2 linked regions of the Homo sapiens genome follow. The protein of the gene in region 1 interacts with the protein of each later gene in a biochemical or structural test. Each region holds a gene or a part of one and is shown in the gene's direction. Other genes may lie near its edges. The genes, in order: PLEKHG2 and GNG2.

Region 1 (7,272 bases):
CGAGTGAGGGAGGGGCATAGGGGATGGGAGGACCCCGAGTGAGGGAGGGGCATAGCGGATGGGAGGACCCCGAGTGAGGGAGGGGCATAGCGGATGGGAGGACCCCGAGTGAGGGAGGGGCATAGCGGATGGGAGTCAGAGGACCTGGATGAAGCCCAAACACTGGGACAGGGTCCCGGCATCAGGACGAGTCCTTGGGGCTGTGTCAGGTCTGGGCTCACGATGAATCCAAGAATCATATGGGGCCTGAAGGCCGAGACAGCGTGAGCATGCGAGTGACCCCCTAAGCCTGATTTGCCTGGGACTTTTCCAGTTTTAGCACTGAAAGCCCTCGTCCTAGGAAACTGCTCAGTCCCGGACAAACCAGGATGGTTGGTCACTGTGGTAAGGAGGACTCTGGGGTCCAAGGATCATGACATTTCCAAGTACCTTGACGAGGTCTCGGGATTACAGCAGGAACTTAAGATCATCCTAGCTCTTTGGGTCATGATATAACACCCCTAGGCTCATGCCAGCACTGACACAAGTTCAAGCTGAGGAATGAGAAGCTGTCCAGGGACAAAGTCTAAGCAGGTTACCATGCCCCGTGTAGCCCTCAGAGGACCCTTCCTCCGGACATGACATCCCCTTAGGAGATGCTGGCAGTCAGCAAGCCCCCAGCCCCAGCAGACCATTGGGGCCTCAGCCTCCTGGAGGCCTCCCATGGAGGGGTCGTGAAGGCAGGCGGTTCCTCACCCTCCCCTCTCCCCTGTAGCGAGCTCCTGGAGGACTTGGAGAACAGCAGCAGCGCCGGGGGTATTGCCGAGTGCTTCGTGCAGAGGGTGAGTGGAGGGGTGGGGGGCTCTCGGTCCTGGATGGGGCCTTTGTAGAGGGGGGAGAGCAGGCTTGGGCTAGGCTGGAAGGGGGGTCGTGGGAAGCCAGGACCTGGGGTCTCCCTGACTCCCATGTCACCCGCAGAGCGAGGATTTTGACATCTACACATTGTACTGCATGAACTACCCGAGGTGAGGGGCAGGAGCCCCTGCTGGGCCTCAGGCTGTGCCCACAAGCTGATGTGCCAGTCACCCGTCACCCTCCCTCTACCCCCGACCCATCCAGCACCGACCCCTGCCAGGCTGTGACAGTAACTGACCTCTCCCTCACTGCCCCGCCCCCTGTCAGACCCTGACCCTTCCCAAACCCTGGCCCCTCCCTAACCCCTCTTGACCCCGCCCACTGGAACTGACAATCCCCACTGACCTGTGCTGTGCCCCCAGCTCCCTGGCCCTGCTCCGGGAGCTGTCGTTGTCTCCGCCAGCAGCCCTGTGGCTGCAGGAGCGCCAGGCCCAGCTTCGCCACTCGCTGCCCCTGCAGAGCTTCCTGCTGAAACCTGTCCAGCGCATTCTCAAGTACCATCTGCTGCTGCAGGTCAGCTGGGGCCCCTGGAGCCAGGCTGGGGAGGGGGAGGTCCTGTCCCTTGACCACCTGTTGGTTCATCTGGAGGATGGACCCCCCACGAGTTGGGCAAGGCCTCCCAAAGTGCTGGGATTACAGGCGTGAGCCACCGCGCACAGCCCTAGCTTTTTTTTTTCCCTTTGAGGTGGAGTTTCACTCTTGTCGATGAGGCTGGAGTACAGTGGTGCGATCTTGGCTCACTGCAACCTCCACCTCCTGGGTTCAAGTGATTCTCCTTGCTCAGCCTCCTGAGTAGCTAGGATTACAGGCGCACACCACCATGCCCAGCTAATTTTTGTATTTTTAATAGGGACGGGGTTTCACTACGTTGGCCGGGCTAGTCTCGAACTCCTGGCCTCAGGTGATTTGCCCACCTCAGCCTCCCAAAGTGCTGGGATTACAGACATGAGCCACTGCGCCTGGCCTCTGCCCCTATCTTTATATTTCTCCATCTCCTGTTATTCTCATTCTCTTTCTCCTTCTCTGTTTCTCTCCCCATCCCTGCGTGCCTGGTGGCTGCCTGACAGGAACTAGGGAAGCACTGGGCGGAGGGCCCAGGCACTGGGGGTCGCGAGATGGTGGAGGAAGCTATTGTGTCCATGACAGCGGTTGCCTGGTACATCAACGACATGAAGCGCAAGCAGGAGCATGCAGCGCGCCTCCAGGTGGCCCCAGGGTGGGCTGGGGCTTGCTGGATGAGGGAGTGAGCGAGGGGGCCTTGGGGCGGGTGGGGGGAAATCAGTGCCTCAGAGGTAGCCTTGGAGGGTTGGCTGGGACAGCATGGCCCTGTTGCTAACCCCCTGTTTTGGTGTGTATGTGTGTGCCACCTACCCATGCTTGTCTCTGCGCCCCGGCGCACCTGGCGGGGTCCCGGCAGGAAGTGCAGCGGCGGCTGGGTGGCTGGACCGGACCAGAGCTCAGTGCTTTTGGGGAACTGGTGTTGGAGGGCGCGTTCCGAGGAGGCGGAGGGGGTGGCCCCCGGCTACGAGGGGGTGAGCGGCTGCTCTTCCTGTTCTCTCGGATGCTGCTGGTGGCCAAGCGCAGGGGGCTGGAGTACACCTACAAAGGCCACATCTTCGTGAGTTTGGGGATGGGGTGGGGCTAGAATACTACCTACAAAGTATATCCCATATACCTGTATCTGTGTGCCCGGCAGTGTGGGCCAGGGGACCCTGCCACATTTTCTTGAGTTAGAGAATGGAAGCCAAGGGAAGCTTTCTTTCTAGTGTATAGAATGAGAGCTGCCCCACTTAAGAAAAAAAAGGAGAAGGCTGGGCGTGGTGGCTCATTCCTGTAATCCGAGCACTTTGGGAGGTCAAGGCGGGCGGATCACTTGAGGTCAGGAGTTCGAGACCAGCCTAGCCAACGTGGTGAAACCCCGTCTCTACTAAAAATACAAAAATTAGCTGGACGTGGTGGCAAGTGCCTGTAATCCCAGCTACTGGGGAGGCTGAGGCAGGAGAATTACTTGAACCCAGGAGGCGGAGGTTGCAATAAGCCAAGATCATGCCACTGCACTCCAGCCTGGGTGACAGAGCAAGACTCTGTCTCAAAAAAAAAAAAGGGAGAGGAAACCCACCATACAGCCTTATGGGATGCATCTTCCTAGGGAGGAGGACCCAGATACACCTCCAAGGGTGTCTCCGTACAAGGGGCATCACTGAGCCCAAGGACTCTGAGCTTGCTACCCCTCTCTTTCCTTCCAGTGCTGCAACCTGAGCGTGAGCGAGAGTCCCCGAGACCCTCTAGGGTTCAAGGTGTCTGATCTGACCATTCCCAAGCACAGACACCTGCTCCAGGTGAGCATGTAGTGGGATCAGGCTGGCAGGGATCCCCCAGCCTCGAGACCTCACACCTGGCCCCCTGACTCTACTCCAACCCACTCCTAGGCCAAGAACCAAGAAGAGAAGAGGCTGTGGATTCACTGTCTCCAGCGCCTCTTCTTTGAGAACCACCCTGCCTCCATCCCTGCCAAGGTACAGCTCCTGCCGCAGCCGGGGGCCCTCTGAGTGCTGGAGACACCCTCCCCCAATAGTACTAAGAGACGCCCCTGCCCAATGCCAGAGCAGTCTGTTATAATGTGATTGCTAAAAGTGCAGAATTCCGCTACTTGGGTTTGAATCTTAGCTCTACCATGTCCCTGCTTTGTGACCTTGGGCAAGTAACTTAACCTCTCTGAGCCTTAACTTCCTCACCTAGAGGAATGAAAGCGCCTTCATCCTAGGGTTGTGGTGATGAGTAATGGTCACCAGCCACGTCATGGGCTTGACCAATAGAAGCACCCATCAGCTGGCTGTGGTGGCTCATGCCTATAATCCCAGCACTTCGAGGGGGTGATGTGGGAGGATCATTTAAGCCCGGGAGTTCGATACCAGCTTGGGCAACATAGTGAGACCCTGTCTCTAAAAAACATTTTTTAATTAGCTGGGGCTGGCCAGGCACGGTGGCTCACACCTGTAATCCCAACACTTTGGGAGACCAAGGCGGGCGGATCACCTGAGGTCAGGAGTTCAAGAGCAGCCTGACCGACATGGAGAAACCCCATCTCTACTAAAAAATACAAAATTAGGCCGGGCGCGGTGGCTCATGCCTGTAATCCCAGCACTTTGGGAGGCCGAGGCGGGCGGATCACGAGGTCCGGAGATCGAGACCATCCTGGCTAACATGGTGAAACCCCATCTCTACCAAAAATACAAAAAATTAGCCAGGCGTGGTGGCAGGTGCCCGTAGTCCCAGCTACTCGGGAGGCTGAGGCAGGAGAATGGCGTGAACCCAGGAGGCAAGAGCTTGCAGTGAGCCTAGGTTGCGTCACTGCGCTCTCCAGACTGGGCAACAGAGTGAGCCTCTGTCTCAAAAAAAAAAAAGAAAAAGAAAAATTAGCTGGGCATGGTGGCGCATGCCTGTAATCCCAGCTACTAGGGAGGCTGAGGCAGGAGAATCACTTGTACCTGGGAGGCGGAACTTGCGGTGAGCCGAGATCATGCCATTGCACTCCAGCCTGGGCAAGAAGAGCGAAACTCCGTCTCAAAAAAATAAAAATAAAATAGCTGGGCTGGACGTGGTGGTTCACGCCTGTAATCCCAGCACTTCGGGAGGCCAAGGCGGGTGGATCACCTGAGGTTAGGAGTTCAAGACCAGCCTGGTCAACATGGTGAAACCCCGTCTCTACTAAAAACACAAAAATTACCGGGTGTGGTAGCGGGCACCTGTAATCCCAGCAACTCAAGAGGCTGAGGCAGGAGAATCGCTTGAACCCAGGAGGCAGAGGGTGCAGTGAGCCGAAATCGCGCCTTTGCACTCCAACCTCGGCAACAAGAGCAAAATCTCCGTCTCAAAAAAAAAAAAAAATTAGCTGGATGTGATGGTGCACATATGAAATCCCAGCTACTCAGGAGGGTGAGGTGGGAAGATCGCTTGATCCCAGAAGTAGAGGCTGGAGTGAGCTATGATTGCACCACTGTACTCCAACCTGGCGTATAGAGCAAGATCTAAAAACAAAAACAGCACCCATTAATGGGCATGACTACGGTGCTTAAAGTATCCTCTCTGTGGTACTCCAAGATCGACCCACCTCAGCCCTCATCCTCCTGTCTTTCAGGCAAAGCAAGTTCTCCTTGAAAACAGCCTGCATTGTGAGTTGGGGCCTTGGGCTGGGAGGGTGTGGAAGTAGACGAATTACTTCCAAGAAAAAGTTGGCTTTTAGCCCCAAAACTCTCCCCACAGGTGCCCCCAAAAGTAAGCCTGTCCTAGAGCCCCTGACACCCCCACTTGGGTCTCCTCGACCTCGAGATGCTAGAAGTTTTACCCCTGGGCGAAGGAACACAGGTAAAGGCGGTGGATCCCTGAGTCCCAGCCCTCAGCCCCACTTCCCTAGGACCCGGGAGCTGGGCTCACACAGGGCTCTGGCCCTCCCTCCCACAGCTCCATCTCCTGGGCCCTCTGTGATTCGCCGAGGCCGCAGGCAGTCTGGTGAGCACTCACCCCTAAGGGTGATCCAGGCATCGGGGTGGGAGCTGGGCTCCTGACATCACTGTGTCCTCCCCGCAGAGCCGGTGAAGGACCCTTATGTCATGTTCCCACAGAACGGTCAGTGACTGCCCCGGTTCAGCCTGGTCCATCCCTGTCTGTCGCCCGGTGGGATGTCTGGGGCGGGTTGGGGAGGGGTGGTTGCTTCAGCTCATCAGTTATGGGGGAATCACTCTTTTTCCCTTACATCTCACTAATGCTTCTCTCTCTCTCATCTCTCCATCCTTAGCTAAGCCTGGATTCAAGGTAAGAGATATCTCGAGATAGGGTCTGGGCACCTTGACTTCTGGGTCTGATGGAGAAGGGAGCTTGAGTTCCAAAATCCTGGGTCTGAATGAGAAGGGGATTGGGGCCAGACAGAGTAACTCATGCCTGTAATCTCAGTATTTTGGGAGGTCAAGGCAGGAGGATTGCTCGAGCCCAGGAGTTTGAGACCAGTCTGGGCAACATGGCAAAACCCCATCTCTACAAAAAGTACAAAAAAATTAGCCAGGCACACTAGTGCATGCCCATAGTCCCAGCTACTCAGGAGACTGAGGTGGGAGGATTGCTTGAGCCTGGGAGGCAGAGGTTGCAAAATGAGCTGGGACACACCACTGCACTCCAGCATGGGTCACAGTGAGACCCTGTCTCAAATAAATAAATAAAAATTTTAAGAGAAAAATAAAAAAATTTAAAAATTGAGCCAGGTACGGTGGCTCACCTGTAATCCCAGCACTTTGGGAGGCCGAGGTAGGTGGATCATCTGAGATCAGGAATTTGAGACCAGGCTGGCCAACAAGGAGAAACCCCGACTCTACTAAAAATACAAAAATTAGCTGGACATTGTGGCAGGCGCCTGTAATCCCAGCTACTCAGGAGGCTGAGGCAGCAGAATCGCTTGAACCCGGGAGGCGGAGATTGCAGTGAGCAGAGATGGCGCCATTGCACTGCAGGCTGGGCGACAGAGCGAGACTCCATCTCAAAACAAACAAACGCAAAAGAAGGGGATTGGGACTTGGGGTCCTCTATGTGAGGGAGGAGTCTTGGCTCTTGCCTTCCATTGCTTTCCCTCCTCACAGCACGCTGGCAGCGAAGGGGAACTCTACCCTCCAGAATCTCAGCCACCAGTTTCAGGCTCTGCACCCCCTGAGGACCTGGAGGATGCTGGACCCCCAACACTGGACCCCTCTGGGACCTCAATCACTGAAGAAATCCTGGAACTGCTGAATCAGCGAGGCCTTCGAGATCCAGGGGTGAGCTGGCTGTCCCATCATGGTGTCCTTGGGCCTCTGGGTGTGGGCACACAGACCAGGGACCAGATAGGCCAGCCCATGCTGATACCTTTATTTTTTTTTTATTTGAGATGGAGTCTTGCTCTGTTGCCGAGGCTGGAGTGCAGTGGCGCCATCTCGGCTCACTGCAAGCTCTGCCTCCCAGGTTCAAGCGATTCTCCTGCCTCAGCCTCCTGAGTAGCTGGGACTACAGGCACCCGCCAACACACCCGGCTAATTTTTTTTTTTTTTTTGTATTTTTAGTAGAGACAGGGTTTCACTATGTTGGCCAGGCTGGTCTCGAACTCGTAACCTCAAGTGACCCGCCCACTTCAGCCTCCCAAAGTGCTGGGATTACAGGCGTGAGCCACCACACCCAGCTACCATGCTGATATGTTTGGCTTGTTCTCCTGTGCCCACTATAGCCGTCCACCCATGACATTCCCAAGTTCCCCGGAGACTCCCAGGTGCCTGGCGACAGCGAAACCCTCACATTCCAAGCCCTGCCCAGCCGGGACTCTTCAGAAGAGGAGGAGGAGGAAGAGGAAGGGCTGGAGAT
Region 2 (7,272 bases), on another chromosome or scaffold:
GAACTCTCAGAGCCTCAAAAAGGAACACAGCCCTGCTTGTACCTTGACTTTAGCCCAGTGAGACCCATTTGAGACTAATGCTCTCCAGAATTATAAGATAATAAATTTCTATTGTTTAAGCCCCTAAACTTGTAGTAATATATTACAGCAGCAATAGAACAAATATATTCTCTATCTCAGCCTCCTCAAGCCACTCACAGCTTTTCCCAGGGAGCATGAAAAGGCATTGAGACACAGACTTTCCTTGATGCTTGAATGACAATAATGGGTCATTTACTCAGTTAATAGCAGGTCTGTTGGCTAATGACAGAGAACCCCTCAATAATGGTGGCATCAATAAGATAGGCACTTATTTCTCTGTCACATCAAAGGTAACCATCTCACAGTTGGCATGGTGGCTCCACAAAATCAGTAAGGACCCAGATCCTTCCTGTTCACCCTAGTGTAGCAGTCATGCTAGAGGTTCAAGAGGGACTTCTGTGATCAATGCAGATGCCTCCCAGGCCAGTAGCAGGAGGAAGGAGAGACAAGGCGTATACCTCTTCCCTTCAAGAACATTTCTGCTTATATCTCATTGGCCAAAACTTAGTCATGTAACTATACCTAGCTGCAAGAGAGGCTTGGAATGTATCTTTCGGCTAAATACACCTAGCTAAAATTCAGGGTTCTTGTGGTCTCCACTAAGAAAAAAAGTGTCGTTACTAATGAAGAAGAAAGGAAGAGGGATTAGAAGGCAAGTTGTGATCTCTGCCACAGGTCACCCTGTAATCTGGTGTAGATTCAGGGCAGAAGAGTCACTGGCCAGAATCTCAAATGTCCCAATAAGAATTTGGTAATTCTGTGATAGTCTGCATTCCAGCCAGATGAATGAATTCCAGTTTGGCAGAAACATTCGCTTCACAGAACAGCATCCAGGGGCTTGTAGATTGTGGCTGCATCCAATATTGGATGAATAGAAGAGTTAGGCTACCCTTCTGAATAAGTCAATGCTCTATCTTGGCCCTATGAAGTCTTCCTAGGCTGTTAGATGTTTGTTTAATTGTGGAGCATGTAATTTCCCTGTGAGGCTGCGATGATTGGGTCTCTAACCATGCTAATGAAATAATACTTGTTAAAGTCTCCTTTTATTATTTTGTTTTTCCATGCAATTCTCCTTCCTTTGATCTCCAAATGTGTAAAAGTAGAGTTCAGAGATCTCTGTGACTTCAAAAATTCCTTCAATCTTCCCTCTCATTTTATTGTCTCCAAACTCTTTGAAAATAAATTGAGGGATGGCCGGGCGTGGTGGCTCATGCCTGTAATCGCAGCACTTTGGGAGGCCGAGGTGGGCGGATCACGAGGTCAGGAGATCAAGACCATCCTGGCTAACATGGTGAAACCCCGTCTCTATTAAAAATACAAAAAATTAGCCAGGTGTGGTGGCGGGCACCTGTAGTCCCAGCTTCTCAGGAGGCTGAGGCAGGAGAATGGCATGAACCTGGGTGGTGGAGCTTGCAGTGAGCCGAGATCGCGCCACTGCACTCCAGCTTGGGCGACAGAGGCAGACTCCGTCTCAAAAAAAAAAAAAAAAGAAAAGAAATTGAGGGAACAATTAATTATGCTCCAATTTATTCTGTAAATGATGTTGGGTGGCTTATTTTGTAGTATTCTTCAACATAATATTCTCCATGAAGGGATTTGTATGTTACAGAGAGTTATACCTAATTTCTTCTTTTGTCTTGAAGAACTGGATATCAAGAAATAACTACCAAAAGAGATAATTTATAGACTTTTGCTTTTTGGTCATTAAGACAATAATTATTTGTTGATTTTAGTTGGTAGGTTAAAAAAAATCTATGTACAGAATTTGTTACGGGTTATTCTTCATTTTCCAGGTTTTCTGTGTGTTCTTTTTCTTTTTAAGATAAGTAACCTGATCTTACTTCATCCTTTGGTAAAAAGATTGTCCAAAGCTAGCAGAAGTCATTATTTTTTATATAATATCTTCAGAACAAGATTCCATTAGTGTTGACGAGGCAGTGTTTAATGTTTCTGTTTCATGGGTCATGCACTCTAGTCAAATCAAAGCACTTAGGTTTTGCTTTATCCAATAGGATATCAGTGATCTCAAGGAGCATATTTACACAGGTAGTCCTAAAATTGCATATGACACCTTGACACAAAGTAAGATTTGTTCAGAATGTGGGGGAAGTGGGCATCAGCAACGGGAATAAAATAAGGTATTTTCCAAGATGAACAATAATAATAAAGTGAGATGGTATGTCAAGAAAGGATAAGAAGAGAAATGAATGTGGGATAGGATTTGAAGGGGGAGGGGAGCACACATGGAGAAAGAGGTATGGCAGAGACAAAGAAACCATCTCGCAATCTGCCTAGGAACAGAACTCTACTCTCAAACCCTGGCCTCAAGGGATCCTCCCACCTTGACCTTTCAGAGTGCTGGGATTACAGATGTGGGCCACCATGCCCAGCCAAGAACTCTACTCTCAAAATGTTTATGTTCCAGATTTATAAAAGAAATCAGTTAATAAGTTTGTTGTACTTCATTTAGAATAACACTGGTGAACTAATTGTCATATTTAGAGATTAGGCATGGCAATCCCTCCCATTTGGCATGATAGATGTGTCCCTGAGGAATTATGAGTAAAGTAGATCGTTGTGACTCAAACTTTAATTTCAAATAGAGTGGGGAGGAATGGCTATTTACAGCAATGCTGGATTAAGTGACACTGAAAAGCCAAGCCTCCCACTATAGTGTCTCTGTAGTATAATACGCTGAGGTGGTCACAGTTAACCAGAAGGATGGGGTTTGAGCCCACTGGGAGAACATTTGGTAATATTCTTTGTGTGTGTGTTTTTTTTCTCTCTAAAGAAGGGATGGGGAAGTAGGGAGAATTGGAAAATCAAACCTCATCCTCTGCTCTGCCTGCCAGTCAGAGGTAATACCGACCAAGGATGGAGAGGGCTGGAGAAGCCAGGCCTGGCTACAGCCACTGCTTTGAGATCCCCTAGTTACGATGAACTTGCACATTTGCTGGCTCATGAATTCTCTGGTACAATCTTCTTTTTGTTTTCTTTTCTAGTGTTTCTGAAAGATCTATCCAGCACTCCGATGGCCAGCAACAACACCGCCAGCATAGCACAAGCCAGGAAGCTGGTAGAGCAGCTTAAGATGGAAGCCAATATCGACAGGATAAAGGTGAGGATGGTCTAACCCCACACTTCATCTAGCGTGAGTCTAAGGCGCATGTCATGTGACCACTCTTTCCTAGAGAGGGATAAAACCAGTAATGACAGGAGAGCATCTTAAAGATTAGGCAGAAGTTCATTTCTAACGTGTCTTTCCCTTCTCCAGCATAAAATAATAGAATGAATTAGATCCTCTTTCCCATGTAGAATTAAAACCTAACAACACAACACAAAAAAAAAAGCAAAACAGGCTCATGGTTAAATTCCAGTGAGAGAAATTAGAGAACACATAAAATATATCAGCGCACTAGTTCCCCTCCCTGTCCTCATGGAAACGTTTTTCTTATTTGGTTTTTAATTTTTTCTGTCCTGGTTCAGGTTCTAAGGCTAAATGTCCGTATTTTGGGTCTAACACTTCTAGTTATCCTTGCACGTTATAAGTTTTTTCTTCTTTATACTTTATTGAATTTTTTTCCTGCAAACACAAAAGTCACACCTTGCCTCCCTAAGAAGTCAAACAACAAAGAGGTTTAATGAAAGTTCATAGTCTATGTGTTTCTTTTTTTCCTCTCCCTCCCCAGACCTAACCTGACAGCTTTGCTGTAAGCTGGGGCTAATTCATCTGGAACCAAGACTTTAAATTCAAACCCTTCGTTGGTAGTTTTCAGATGAAAACCTTGGCCAATATGCTGTCGTTATTAATAGATAGCTATGGCACGGTGGCAAAGTAAATTTCTGTTAACCATCAAAACTTTACTGCCCCAGAAGTAAAATGCCTTACCCAAGAATTCTATGAAATGCAGCTCAGACACATATCTCATTGTACTAAGCTAAAACTACAACCTTCTTCCAAATGCCCTTTTAAAACTAGAATATTTTTCCTATTTTCTCCATACCTAATTCAGCACCTGGGCAATCCAGCTGTCCTTTGGAGTCTGACAGGGTCAATAAAATTTGGCTCATGGGCCAAAGCCAGCCCACTGCCTATGTTTATAAAGAAAGTTTTATTAGAACACACTCATTTACATATTGTCTATGGCTGCTTTCACTCTAAAACAGCAGAGTAGGGTGGTTGTAACAGAGACCATATGGCCCACAAAGCTAAAATATTTATTCTCTGGTGTTTCACAGGAAGTTCACTGACCCCTGGTCTACAGCGATGGTTCTCAGCTCATCTGTGCGTTCCCAACACCCAGAGAGCTCTATAAAAGGACCAATTACCGAACCACACCCAAACCAATTAAATTAGAATCTCCTGGGGTATGATTCAGGCATCAGTATTTTTTAAAAAGAATTTTTCAGTTCATTCCGATGTATAGCCAAGGTTGAGAACCACTGTCCTATGGGAAGGAGTTTACTTCTGCTAAGTCTCATCAGGTATGTGCTAGAGAGTGAAGAGAGAGCTCTTCTTTCTCTACAAGTAAGATGAGCAAATACCCATGGACATTTTCCCATTATCCTAAATCTCCTTTGTAAAATTTGATGCCTAGTAATGGACCACAGGATTTAATCAGCTCCTGCTCTTCTTTCAACAGCCTTAATTCTTCTTCTTTCTTCATGACTGAGATCACTAAAGCGACCTTACCGTGCTCCTTTGCCATCTTCCTCTTCTCCTCTTTTCTTGCTTCTTCTTTTTCACTCTCTTGCTGAAAAAGCACAAAGCAACAGGTGGGCACAATACCTGCTGAGAGAAGTAAGGTGGCCCATGGATTGTCAAATCAGAAAGGGTCATTCAGTTCTTTTTGAGGGAGAGGAGGTTCTGCCCATGGGCCTTCTGGAAAATACCACTTTGACTTTTGAGGTGGTCCAACTATGATAAAAGTCTGTGAAGCTTTACTGTGGTTGATGTTTTCTGTTAATATTCAGCATCCCCAGTTACTGTTCCTGAAGGAGGATATGATGTGCTCATGGGTGATGAAAACTGACAGCAGAAGAAAGATAATAGAAATAGAGCTTTTCAGAAATAGTTTAGACTTTTATCATCCCTCACCTGAATTACTGACTGCAAGGGGCTCCTATTTGCTGTCTGCAATTCCATCTCAATACATCTCCATCCCGCCATCAATTACCTTCCATATTCCTTCCAAATATAATGTTCTAAAAGAAAATCTAATTACATTCCTCTTTATTGAAAATCAGCTCATGATTCCCCATCACCAGTAAAATAAAATTCAGGCCCTTTAGCAGTGTATACAAAGTTCCTGTGACCCCTGTCATCTCTTCAGCTTCATTCCTGCTCTCTTTTCTGCATGCCATATAGAACAACTTTTAATTCTTTTGATGGGAATTTCAAATGCCTAGAACATCCAGTCTCCTTTGCCCCTCTACCTTGCTGCTTTACTTACCTTACTTTACTTAACACTTGACTGCATTGACTCATTAAAGATTCAGATCAAATTATTAGGTCCTTTAAAAAGTTTTCCTAGACCCGCATCATAAGGTTGGATTTTTGCTGTTTGTTCAGTTGTTCATTCATTTACTTATATAATAAATACTTTACTGAGAGCTTTCTAAATTGCAAGGGCTTGTTAGGTTCTAAAGAGATGGAGATAGACAAAAACATGATTCTTGCTCTCAAAAATCCCTGACCTAGTTGAAGACTACAAAAAAATTGAACAAGGCCTATTATTGACGCAAACAAGATATCCAAGAAGCATAGTTACCAAATGTGATCAGAAAGAAGCCAATACCACACTCTGATTGCCCTTTGAAGAGACACAAATAAATCAATACTAAAAAAGAAGCAAAGCATGAACCTGATAAACTGGGTGTGAGTAGTTGCCTTCCTAGGTGATCTTCACATTCAAATCTCTGAATCCCACTTGATGTCATTGGACCTTACATTGTTAGAAATACAGCAGCATCCTGTATTTCAGCATTTGTTCTGTACCTCAGAGCCAGGCAGGCTTGCTGTGGTGAAGTGACAGATTATTTTTAGTTGAGCAGTTGGATAAAGTGTTGACTGTGTTGACACGGTTGTCAGCTAGCTGGTTTAGGGCTTGGTTATCTGCCTTTAGAAGTCTTTTCAAGGCTTTTGAGCATTCAGGCTTCCCCACCTACTTTCCATACATGATCCTTCAGCAGGAAGGGGCTTCTCTCTGAAGATCCCAGGCTTGTGATTTTCCAGTGAGAGTAGTGACCTCTTCAAGCTATAAAGGATAGAAATGGCTTTATATACGTCTGGCAGAACCTACTGCAACTGAGGTGGCAAAGAATAGGACTCTTAAGAGGAGGATTTGGGGACACAGCTGGAATTGAAGTTGTTGAGGGTCCCTTAAGCAGGCGGTGGCCTTATCCCTCATGTGACCCCCAGAATAAATTATGCTGCATAGAGTAGCCCTACTCTATGAATAACATAGTTACATGAATAGCATGTTTGTTTTTTAAGCCTTCTTGTTTTCTATCCCTTTACATCACAGACCCTGGGAGATTTGGGCTAAGTGAACCAATTATCTGTTCATAAGCCTCGGGCATATATAAATTATACTCTCAGCCTCTTTGTATTTCTTTGTTAGGATTTCATTCAAGGACAGAGGGTAAAGAGAAATAAAAGGAAATTGGGAAGAGAGTTAGGGGAAGGGGGAGAGAGGGGCTGTGGACTGTGACACCTGGATGAATGAAACAGCAATAGACTCACACTAACACTGACCAAAGACAAAATGAAAGAAACCTTGTCCTTAGAGCACAAGAGGAGGGAACATGCACAAAAGTAAAGGACAGCAGGGCTTCAGTAAATCTGTTTATTCATCATTGTATTAGGACTCTTTGAGTTTCTAATAATAGGAATCTCAACCAAGCTAGCTGAAGCAGAAAGAGGTACTGATTATAAAAGATACAGGATGTCTCAATCCAAGAGCAGAAATGTGGCTAGATAGGCAGTGGAAGTGAGAACTGGAAGGCCATTGAGAACTGCGAGTGCTCCGTCACCTGTCTCTGCTCCTCTCTCTGTGTCTGCCTCTTCCTTTTCCTGGGAAGAAGGGATTTTTAGCTGCCAGGTCCATATAGCAGGCACAAGATGGCTGCCCATGGTTCCCAGGATCACAACTCATAGTTCCAGCTCCATGAAAAAAGAGATGGCTTGAT

The links.
Region 2: the proteins of PLEKHG2 (region 1) and GNG2 form a complex in vitro, tested with the Homo sapiens proteins (one study listed by BioGRID).

Annotation. Positions count from the first base shown.
Region 1 is NC_000019.10:39,415,594-39,422,865, forward strand, and holds part of PLEKHG2 (pleckstrin homology domain-containing family G member 2), read left to right. Parts: intron 1-754; coding exon 755-821; intron 822-957; coding exon 958-1,004; intron 1,005-1,256; coding exon 1,257-1,407; intron 1,408-1,961; coding exon 1,962-2,099; intron 2,100-2,311; coding exon 2,312-2,512; intron 2,513-3,140; coding exon 3,141-3,233; intron 3,234-3,323; coding exon 3,324-3,410; intron 3,411-5,032; coding exon 5,033-5,066; intron 5,067-5,157; coding exon 5,158-5,259; intron 5,260-5,355; coding exon 5,356-5,403; intron 5,404-5,481; coding exon 5,482-5,520; intron 5,521-5,689; coding exon 5,690-5,706; intron 5,707-6,521; coding exon 6,522-6,695; intron 6,696-7,138; coding exon 7,139-7,272. UniProt on the Homo sapiens protein: May be a transforming oncogene with exchange activity for CDC42. May be a guanine-nucleotide exchange factor (GEF) for RAC1 and CDC42. Activated by the binding to subunits beta and gamma of the heterotrimeric guanine nucleotide-binding protein (G protein).
Region 2 is NC_000014.9:51,947,567-51,954,838, forward strand, and holds part of GNG2 (guanine nucleotide-binding protein G(I)/G(S)/G(O) subunit gamma-2 precursor), read left to right. Parts: intron 1-3,083; coding exon of another isoform or gene 3,084-3,112; coding exon 3,113-3,199; intron 3,200-7,272. UniProt on the Homo sapiens protein: Guanine nucleotide-binding proteins (G proteins) are involved as a modulator or transducer in various transmembrane signaling systems.